Linked DNA regions of Homo sapiens. The protein of the gene in region 2 purifies or fractionates together with the protein of the main gene of each other region. This does not show direct contact. Each region holds a gene or a part of one and is shown on either strand. Other genes may lie near its edges. The genes, in order: DNPEP, PADI4 and MTMR4.

Region 1 (3,336 bases), on a different chromosome or scaffold from region 2:
GTTGGTTGGGGCAACAGTGGGAGAAGAGGCGGAGGAGGTAGAATAGGGGGTAGCAGGGGTGGGGGTTCAGGAGAGCCAGGCATACTTGGTATAACTTTTTTTTTTTTCCAAGACGGAGTCTTGCTCTGTTGCCCAGGCTGGAGTGCAGTGGTGCGATCTCCGCTCACTGCAACCCCCGCCTCCCAGGTTCAAGCAGTTCTGTTGCCTCAGCCTCCCAAGTAGCTGGGATTACAGGCGCCCACCACCACAACCTGCTAAATTTTGTATTTTTAGTAGAGATGGGGTTTCACCATGTTGGCCAGGCTGGTCTCGAATTCCTGACCTCATGATCCGCCCACCTCAGCCTCCCAAAGTGCTGGGATTACAGGTGTGAGCCACCGCACCTGGCCGGTATAACTTTTATTGGGACAAATCCACATGTAAGTGGATGAATTTGAACTGCACAGGTCCATTTATATGTGGATTTTCTTCCACCTCTGGGGTAACATTTCTATCACCCTCTTAAAAGTTTTCTTGCACCCTTTTGCAACCAAACTCTCTCTCAATCCTTGACATTCAAGCAACCACTGGTCTGCTGTCACTATAGTTCAGCTGGCATTTTCTAGAATTTATCCCATGGGAAAAACCAAGGCAAATGTACAATGATATATGTACATTTATCTCAATGTTATTTAGAGTTGTCAACTGGAGAAAAACTTAAATGACCATTATTAACAGACTGAATAAATAATGACCATCTATACAATAAAATACTGTACGCCAATTGTAAGAGTAAATACAGTGTGAGGGTAAAATTTTTTACATAAGTAATACATGGTACATTCTGTTATACAAAAGGAAACCATTACAAAAAGGCTAAGGCCCTTTTGTCACTCCCAACCCAGAAGATCACTGTAAAAGTTTCAGGTGCATTTTTCCAGGCTTTTTCTATACATGTATACATCTACGTGCATATTTATATACACATAAAAATATATAATAATTTTTTTTTTGAGACGGAGTCTGGCTCTGTCGCCCAGGCTGGAGTGCAGTGGCTCAATCTTGGCTCACTGCAGCCTCTGCCTCCCTGGCTCAAGCTATTCTCCTGCCTCAGCCTCCCGAGTAGCTGGGATTACAGGCACCCACCACCACGCATGGCTAATTTTTTTTGTATTTTTAGTAGAGAGGTTTTCACCATGTTGGCCAGGCTGGTTTTGAACTCCTGACCTCAAGTGATCTGCCCACCTCGGCCTCCCAAAGTGCTGGGATTACAGGCATAAGCCACCGTGCCTGGCCATATAATGTTTTGAAGGTACTCCTTGTCCTGTGTCCAGTTCTGCAACCTGCCTTTTCTACTCAACAATGTCTTTGTAATCTCTTCATGTTAGTACACACACTATACAATTTATCTTTTTCTCAATAGCTACCTATAATGGACATTTCATAGTGTATTTGGGCTTGCCTTTACTGAGAAATCTTTAGATGAATTCTAACTTTTTGCCATTGCTAAATTAAATTTATATGTATTGATATAGAAATATCTCTATATTATATTAAGTTTTTTAGAAAGCTGAAGTGGAATATTTATATGGAAATAAACTTTTATATAGGTATCAAAAAGATTGGAAGGACACCAGTTTGCACAATTATTTTAGTGGAAGGAAGGAGGTTGGTTTATAAGCAGGCTTTGACTTTTTCTTTTTCTTTTTTTTTTTTTGAGAGAGTTTCACCCTTGTTGCCCAGGCTAGAGTGCAATGGCAGGATCTTGGCTCACCACAACCTCCGCCTCCTGGGTTCAAGCGATTCTCCTGCCTCAGCCTCCGGAGTGGCTGAGATTACAGGCATGTGCCACCACGCCCGGCTAATTTTGTATTTTTAGCAGGGACAGGGTTTCTCCATGTTGGTCAGGCTGGTCTTGAACTCCCGACCTCAGGTGATCCGCCCACCTCAGCCTCCTAAAGTGCTGGGACTACAGGCATGACCCATCACGCCTGGCCTTTTTTCTCTGAGACAGAGCCTTGCTCTGTTGCCCAGGCTGGAGTGTGGTGGCTCCATCTCAGCTCACTGCAACCTACGCCTCCTTGGTTCAAGCTATTCTCCTGCCTCAGTCTCCTGAATAGCTGAGATTACAGGTGTGTGCCACCATGCCTGGCTAATTTTTTTGTATTTTTTTTTAAGTAGAGATGGGTTTCACCATGTTGGCAAGGCTGGTCTTGAACTCTGACCTCAAGTGATCCACCTGCCTTGGCCTCCCAAAATGCTGGGAATACAGATGTGAGCCGCTGCACCCGGCCAGACTTTGACTTTTCCAATTTTTTCAATGATAATCTTTTTTCCTGATAATATGTTCACAATCAAGTAATACCAGGGACTGCTGAGAAGTGGATGATGAAGGGTGATAAGGTATAGACTGTGCCCTTCTCTTTGCAGCTCCTGAGAGGGGATGGGAAGGGATTTTGGGAGGGTGAGAAACAGCTTTGTCTGCCCAGAGCAGCTCTGAAGGTGGCCCAGTGCAGAACAGGATCTCTGAAGGCAGAGCGGGACACCCATTCTGGGGATGGAAAGAGGGAAGACCGTTGAGGCCATTTCCCAGGTGGAGGACTAGGGGTGGGAGAAGTGACCTTCTGCTTGAGGATCCAGTCCACCCTTCACCCACTTCAGACATGGACTTGAGACAGAGAAGAGATTTAAAACCAGATTTAAAACCATCAGCTCCCAGGAGTGTGGCCTCCTCCACCTGCTCCCCAACTTTTCTGGTTCCAAAGGTTCAAGCCAGGCTCAACTCCCACTCCTCTAGTCTCCAAATAAGCGTAGCACGGAGAGTCTGAGTGACAATCCACTTTAATAATCCAGCTTCAGCTCAGCTGAGAACTTCCCCTCTCAGGTGCAAAGGGATGGCAGAGAAGTCTTTCCAAGAGGGCTCAATCCACTAAGAGATTATGGCTTAGAGAAGGGAACAGCTCAAAGAAGCCCTATAATGGGAGGCAACATGGAGTTTGGAATTAGTGAGTGACCAGATGGAGATGTCCTGCCACCCACCTCCCACCAACATATGTTCCAGCAAGAGAAGCACCGAGGTTTCATCTGTTCTTGACAGCCACCCCAGTCTTCTCAGCCCTGATCCCCTCTTCCCATCCCCTCATTTTCCATTTCTTTGGGTCAGGGCCCCTGAGCCTTGAGAAGAATAAGGACCGTTGTTTTATCTCTTTTTTCTCTTTTGTAGAGACATGGACTTGCCATGTTGCTCAGGCTGGTCTCAAACTCCTGGCCTCAAGCAATCCTCCCACCTCCCCAAGTGTTGTCATTATAGCATGAGCCACTGTGGTTGGCCAGGACCCTTGTTTTCCTACATGGCCC
Region 2 (3,651 bases):
TCTTTTTTTTTTTTTTTCCCGAGACAAAGTCTCACTCTGTTACCCAGGCTGGAGTGCAATAGCATGATCTTGGCTCACTGCAACCTCCGTCTCCCAGGTTCAAGTGATTCTCCTGCTTCCGCCTCTCAAGTAGTTGGGATTACAGGCTCCTGCCAGGACACCTGTCTAATTTTCGTATTTTTAGTAGAGATGGGGGTGTCACCATGTTAGCCAGGCTGGTGTCGAACTCCTGACCTCAAGTGATCCACCCGCTCTGGCCTACTAAGGTGCTAGGATTACAGGCGTGAGCCACCGCACCCGGCCTCAAGATGACTGTCTTAACAGACACTGTCTTGCTGTCACTAGTGATTAGCACCTGGCACCCGCTGTTGAAGGCTCTGCCAAAATTACACTCTTCCTTGCAAGACGTTGATGTCCATTTAGATCAGCCCAGGACCCTCTCCTTGTCCACATCACTCTCCTTGGACTGGTTCACTGACCCCTTTTCCTATCCCCTTCTCTCTTGATGTTAAATATTGCTTTGTTTGGTAAGAATGTTTCATCTGTAACATTTCTGTGTTGATTAAGTACACTACTATGTATGGTTTGCAGGACTGACTGACTTGTGGAGTGGCTTGAGCCTGTGTGCCCAGGGCTCTGCCCACCTGAGGACTGCCCCTGGGGAACTCCGTGTGGCTTGTGGATTTTATGATGGAAATAGCATCAGTAGAAGCCTGACCTTGTGGAAAGACACCAACGTGCATGGACCTGGTCACGTCTGACCTTGTACCACTCAGGACAAAGCTACAAACGGTTACAGAGAGGAGCCAAGCCCTCTGGGACCGCCCGGGTGCCCCACTGGCCTCTCGGGCTGAGCTACCTCCATGCCACACCCTGGGGTTTTAAAGCCGCCACCTCCTCACCATGTTGGGGAAAAAAGCTTCCGCCTTAGAGAACTCTTTGAGCTTGAAGAGCTGCGGGATGTCAATGATGTCACTCTCGGCCAGGCCCAGCTCCCGCTTCAGCAGCTCGCGGTTCCAGTCGATGCATCTCTTGGGGAAGGGGCAGGGGCAGTGAGTGGGGGACTGATGGCAGTCGGGGGTGGGGGTGGGGGACAGTGTGGGGCTGAGGCCCCCTGCCGGAGGGTAGGACCTGGGACAGTGTCAGGAAGGCAGTGAAGGTGGCTGCCAGGCCTCACTGCACAGAGGGGCCTCTGGCCAGTGCTCTCGGGGGACCCTGGGGCCTCCCATTCCCTCTGCTCCCTCAGCCTCTCCCAGTCTTTGCTTCTGCCCTTGCTTCTGTGTCTCTGTCTTCCAGCGCATCCTGAGACCCTGAGCCTCTGTGTGCCTCTAATCACTGGGAAAGTGGCTGAGCCGGGGACAGGGCGTCAGGTCTGCTGGGGTGTAGGCACCCAGGCTCCTACCTCCACAAATGAATTATGTTCTCTCAATGTCTTGTTTGACAGAATGTTCTTTATTTTCTGCTGTTTTTTTTCTGTCATGGAGAAAAAGAAAAAAAAGGCAAATGAACTTAGAGGTCGATTTCCCTCTTCCCAGCCAGTGCCGGGGGGGGACTCAGTGTTCCCATCTATAAAATGGAGTCAGTAATAATTCTTACCATACAGGTTTGCTGTGAGCATCTGCAAGTCAAATATCTTTAATACAATATTTTAGCAGTATAAGTTCTCATTAAAAATGTTGTTCTCACCTCATTTAAATTCTTTTTAAAATATATTTTTATTTTTATTATTATTTTTTTTTTTTTTTGAGACGGAGTCTCGCTGTCGTCCAGGCTGGAGTGCAGTGGCGCAATCTCGGCTCACTGCAGGCTCCGCCCCCTGGAGTTCACGCCATTCTCCTGCCTCAGCCTCCGGAGTAGCTGGGACTACAGGCGCCCGCCACCTCGCCCGGCTAATTTTTTGTATTTTTAGTAGAGACGGGGTTTCACCGTGTTACCCAGGATGGTCTCGATCTCCTGACCTCGTGATCCGCCCGCCTCGGCCTCCCAAAGTGCTGGGATTACAGGCGTGAGCCACCGCGCCCGGCCTAAAATATATTTTTATAGTGTAATTTTTTTTTTGTTTTGAGACAGAGCCTTGCTCTGTCGCCCAGGCTGGAGTGCAGTAGTGCGATCTTGACTCACTGCAACCTCCACCTCCCGAGTTCAAGCGATTCTCCTGCCTCAGCCTCCCCAGTAGCTGGGATTACAGGTGCGCACCACTGCGCCCAGCTAATTTTTGTACTTTTAGTAAAGTCGGGGTTTCATCACGTTGGCCAGGCTGGTCTCAAACTCTTGACCTCAGGTGATCCACCCGCCTCAGCCTCCCAAAGTGCTAGGATTACAGGTGTGAGCCACCACACTTGGCCTAGTTTAATATTTTCTTGTTTTTTTTTTTTTTTTTGAGACTGAGTCTTGCTCTGTCACCCAGGCTAGAGTGCAGTGGCACATTCTTGGCTCACTGCAACCTCCACCTCCCGGGTTCGAGTGATTCTCCTGCCTCAGCCTCCCAAGTAGCTGGGATTACAGGCACCCGCCACCACGCCCGGCTAATTTTTGTATTTTTAGTAGAGACGGGGTTTCACCATCTTGGCCTAGCTGGCCTTGAACTCCTGAACTCGTGATCCACCCGCCTCGTCCTCCCAAAGTGCTAGGATTACAGGCATGAACCATCGCGCCCAGCCTAGTTTAGTGTATTTTAATAGCACACTTACAGGAACAGCACAGAAAACAGACAACATTAAAAATATCTACTTGCATGCAGGACAGACAGCTCAGAAAAGTATAGTGAATGGATGGAATCTACTGTGTGATAAAAATGCTACAAGTACCATTTAGTTGCTGTCAATAAGAAATGTCCTTGTTTTAAGCCAGGCGTGGTGGCTCATGCCTGTAACCCCAGCACTTTGGGAGGCCGAGGTGGGTGGATCACCAGGTCAGGAGTTCGAGACCAGCCTGGCCAGCATGGCAAAACCCCATCTCTACTAAAAATACAAAACATTAGCCAGGTGTGGTGGTGCACACCTGTAATCCCAGCTACTCGGAAGGCTGGGGCAGGAGAATCACTTGAACCCGGGATGCAGAGGCTGCAGAGAGTCGAGATCGCGCCATTGCACTCCAGCCTGGGCAATAGAGGAAAACTTCGTTTCAAAAGAAAAGAATGTCCAGAAAAATTTAACAGGTTTACTTATAATTATTATAAAGTTGAACCATGAAACTTGTTCACTGGAACATTTTGCCTTGCATTAACGCTAAATTATCTTATCTCCAAAGAGATCCCATCGAGAGAGGAAGAAACAGGTCAGCCCTCTCCTGATGCCACACAACATACTCAGATCTGAGGTGGAGCTCTCAGCCACAGAGGCATCTCAGCCCGGGGCCTGGCCCATGTCTGTGAGCTCTGCTGAGAGAGTAATATTTCATCTGTGCTCCAGCTATACCGAACCTCCCCGAGGTCCTCACACACATCGTGCTTTCTCCTGCCTCTGAGCCGCCCCACCCCCGTCCCTCTGCCTGTGGTATCTCTCTTCCTCTCATTTCCCTGCCCCGTTTGCCCAGCCAACCCCTACTTGCATGCTACTGCTTGGCCTCTGCCTCCTCCAAGAAGCCTTCCCTGAGCTCCATCCACTCAGACACCCCTCAAAGCCCCTGTGTTGGAGCTGTTCTTTTGACTCA
Region 3 (3,651 bases), on a different chromosome or scaffold from region 2:
TGATTTTTCTCCTCGTAATATGGGCTGAAAGCACCTGCTGTGCAACGTTATTGGGATCATTAATTGGGATCACATATGCAGAGGACTCCGTACAGTTACCAGGTGCTTAACAGACCCTCAGTAAATGTTGGTTTCCTTCCTGCTATTGATACATTAGTGCCTACGCTAGGGTGAGGGTGAGGAGTGGTACCCAGTGGGGAGTCTGAGCTTCAGTTTGCCCTTCCTCTACAGGTCCCCCTCCGGATGATTGACAGTGTGGAGAGCCGTGATATGTTCCAGTTGCACATTTCCTGCAAGGACTCCAAAGTGGTGAGGTGAGAACAACGGAGCCTCACTCAGGTCCCCTGGCCCTAGTCTTGTCCAGTTCTCTGTGCTGCAGGGTTTCTCTGGTGCAAGAGAGGAAAGATCCTGCCTCACTTTCCCCAGTTGGAAGAAAAGGTGAAGACCATGTTCTGGGTTGGGAGGTCAGTTTACTGACCCATAGGATCTTGACCTGAAAAAATGGGGGTAATGCCTAGTTCATGGAGTCATCGTAAGGATTAAGTGAGATAATGTGTATGTGTATGAAAGCACCGAGGACAATATCTGGCACAGAGCACTCATATTATTGTTGGTTTATTTATTTATTCATTTGATATACATGTATTGAGTACCCTACTCAATGCCAGCCTGTTTTAAGCCCTGGGGATACAGCAGGGAACAAATAGACAAAATTTTGCCGCCTCAGAGAGCTTACATTCCAATGAGGAGATACCAACCGTAAGTAATAAGTAAAATTTGTGAAATGATAGTAAGTGTAAAGGAAAAAAATAAAGCAGGGAAAGGGAATAAGGAGTGCTATGAGGGTGAAGATTGTAAAACAATCAGGCTGGGCACGGTGGTTCACGCCTGTAATACCAGCACTTCGGGTGGCCAAGGTGGGAAGATCCCTTCAGCTTAGGAGTTCAAGATCAGCCTGGGCAACATAGCGAGACCCCATCTCTACTAAAAATAGAAAAAATTAGCCAGGTGTGGTGATGCGTGGGGAGATCGCTTCAGCTTAGGAGTTCAAGATCAGCTTGGGCAACAGGACGAGACCCCATCTCTACTAAAAATATAAAAAATTAGCCAGGCGTGGTGATGCATGCCTGTAGTCCCAGCTACTCAAGAGGCTGAGATAGGAGGACCTCTTGAGCCTGAGAAGTCGAGGCTGCAGTGAGCTGTGATTACACCACTGCACTCCAGCCTGGATGACAGAGTGAGACCCTGTCTCAAAAAAACAAAAGTGATCAGAGAAGCTGCACCGAAAAGGTGGCAGTCGAGTCAAGACTTGAAGAAAGTGGCCATGTGGCTATTTGGTGGAAGAGTGTGCCAGAGACAGAGAACGGCAAGTGCAAAGGCCTTGAGGTGGGTGTGTGCCTGCATATTGGGAGACTGGCAGGGAGGCTGGTGTTGTTGGAGTAGAGCACGTGTGGGTGAGGGTAGTGGGTTATATGACCTGAGAACAAAGCCGGGTGTCAGACACTTTGGCTGTCATGAAGACTGGCTTTTACTTTGAGGGAACTGAGAAACCACTGGAGGATTTTGAGCAAAGGAGTGATGTGATCTGATTAATGTTTCATAGAATCACACTGGCTGCTATATTGAGACTAGATGAAAGAGAATGGGGGCAAGAGCAAAAGCAAAAACTGGGAGACTAGTTAGGAAGCTATTGCAGTTACCCAGATGAGAGATCATGGTGGCCTGTCTGAGGTGGTAGCAGCCAAAGCGGTGAGAAGCATTCAGATTCTGGGTGTATTTTGAAGGTGGAGATGAGAAGATTTGCTGACAGATTTGAAGTGAAAGAAAGAGGAATCTGGATGACTCCAAGGTTTATTAAAAGGATACCTACTTTAGAGCCTACCATGTGCTCAGGTCTGTGGGGCATTCAGAAGGAGCATTCACATTGCCCTTCCCTTCAAGGAGGCTAAACTCTAGCTGCTGGAAGAAGATTTAACATGTGGCAATATGCTATGGGAAAATGTGTTGCTTAGTACTCCAAGTAGGCCAGGCACAGTGGCACATACCTGTAATCCTAGTACTTTGGGAGGCCGAGGGAGGAGGATCGCTTGAGCCCAGGAGTTCAAGATCAGCCTGGACAACATAGAGAGACCCTGTCTCTATGAAGAATTTAAAAAGTTAGCCAGACGTGGTGGTGCACAATTATGGTCTCAGCTACTCAGGGGACTGATTTGTGAGGATTGCCTGAGCCCAGGAGGTCGAGGCTGCAGGGAGCTGTGATCGTGCCACTACACTCCAGCCTGGGTGACAGAGCAAGAGCAAGACCCTCTCTCAAAAAAAAAAAAAAAGGTATATATATATATTCCAAGCACATTAAGAATCAAGAGAGGAAGGAGTTTCTGGAATAGAGTAGGCTGGGAAGGCTTCAAGGAAGAGGTGAGACTGAAACTATCTTCAAAGCATCAGTAGGATGTGGCTAGGCAGAGAGGAGACATTATCAAGCAGAAGATAAACCAAGGAGATGGGAAGGATGTGAGCAGAACTTCCCGCCTGAAGCAGAAGGTTTGAGTTAGGGAGTCATGGGAGATAACACTGGTCCATTAGGGTAGGGACAAGGAGTGCAGACGTTCAGGGCCACATGGTAGCATTTAGATTTGATACGAGAAACAGTAGCGCCCCATTCGAGAGGATAAGTATGCCTCAAACACAGGAGTTCTTGGGAAGAGAATTATCACAAGAGACAACTTCTGTTGGGTGTTGGCCAGTGTCCCTCGTCCCCCCACCCTGGGTCCCCACTGCTTTACCTCTTGCTTTGCAGCCTTCTCTCCTCACAGCCTTCCTGTGGCTGTGTTTTTGGCCCTGATAGCCCCATGGCACAACTGCACTTTGCCTCACCTAGGCCTGTGGCTTCTTGCCTGGCAGGTGCCACTTCTCCACTTTTAAGCAGTGCCAAGAGTGGCTCTCACGGCTAAGCCGAGCCACAGCAAGACCTGCCAAGCCTGAAGACCTCTTTGCCTTTGCCTACCATGCCTGGTGCCTGGGGCTGACCGAGGAGGACCAGCACACTCACCTATGTCAGCCAGGTGAGGCCAGTCTATTTTCTTTGGGAGGCTGCTTCTTACCCCTTAGTTCTCATCCCTCCTCCACTCCTGCACATTGGTGCTCTGGGAAGCTAACCATCGTGGGGGCTCTGTTGCAGGTGAGCACATACGTTGTCGACAGGAGGCGGAGCTTGCAAGGATGGGCTTTGACCTGCAGAACGTCTGGAGAGTCTCACACATCAACAGCAACTACAAGTGAGAGGGTTGGGGACCAAAACACCTTCCACACCAAACTACTTCCGTGTTTGGATAAAGTGTGGTGGGCACAGCTTCTGAGTCTGAGAGGGAGGAAGGCTCATGGTTTCTCTTCCCACAAAGCCATCCCCAGGGATCCTGTCATCACATGTTTTAGACCCAGTGCAGTGACCCCCACCTGGTCTCTTCTCAGATTGTGCCCCAGTTACCCCCAGAAGCTGCTGGTTCCTGTGTGGATCACTGACAAAGAGCTGGAGAACGTGGCTTCCTTCCGCTCCTGGAAGCGGATTCCCGTGGTTGTGTATAGGTGAGGCAGTGGGGCTGGGAAGTAGGGAGGCCATTTCTTATGCAACAAGGAAAGAGTCAAAATTGGAGA

What was found.
Region 1: the proteins of PADI4 (region 2) and DNPEP purify together in Homo sapiens (co-immunoprecipitation; one large-scale study listed by IntAct). This does not show direct contact.
Region 3: the proteins of PADI4 (region 2) and MTMR4 purify together in Homo sapiens (affinity purification with mass spectrometry; one large-scale study listed by BioGRID and IntAct). This does not show direct contact.

Annotation. Positions count from the first base shown.
Region 1 is NC_000002.12:219,371,392-219,374,727, forward strand, and holds the end of DNPEP (aspartyl aminopeptidase), read right to left. Parts: intron 2,952-3,336; coding exon 2,901-2,951; 3' UTR 652-2,900; downstream 1-651.
Region 2 is NC_000001.11:17,356,660-17,360,310, reverse strand, and holds part of PADI4 (protein-arginine deiminase type-4), read right to left. Parts: intron 1,474-3,651; coding exon 1,403-1,473; intron 1,032-1,402; coding exon 903-1,031; intron 1-902. UniProt on the Homo sapiens protein: Catalyzes the citrullination/deimination of arginine residues of proteins such as histones, thereby playing a key role in histone code and regulation of stem cell maintenance.
Region 3 is NC_000017.11:58,508,092-58,511,742, reverse strand, and holds part of MTMR4 (phosphatidylinositol-3,5-bisphosphate 3-phosphatase MTMR4), read left to right. Parts: intron 1-231; coding exon 232-314; intron 315-2,901; coding exon 2,902-3,062; intron 3,063-3,178; coding exon 3,179-3,275; intron 3,276-3,468; coding exon 3,469-3,582; intron 3,583-3,651. UniProt on the Homo sapiens protein: Lipid phosphatase that specifically dephosphorylates the D-3 position of phosphatidylinositol 3-phosphate and phosphatidylinositol 3,5-bisphosphate, generating phosphatidylinositol and phosphatidylinositol 5-phosphate.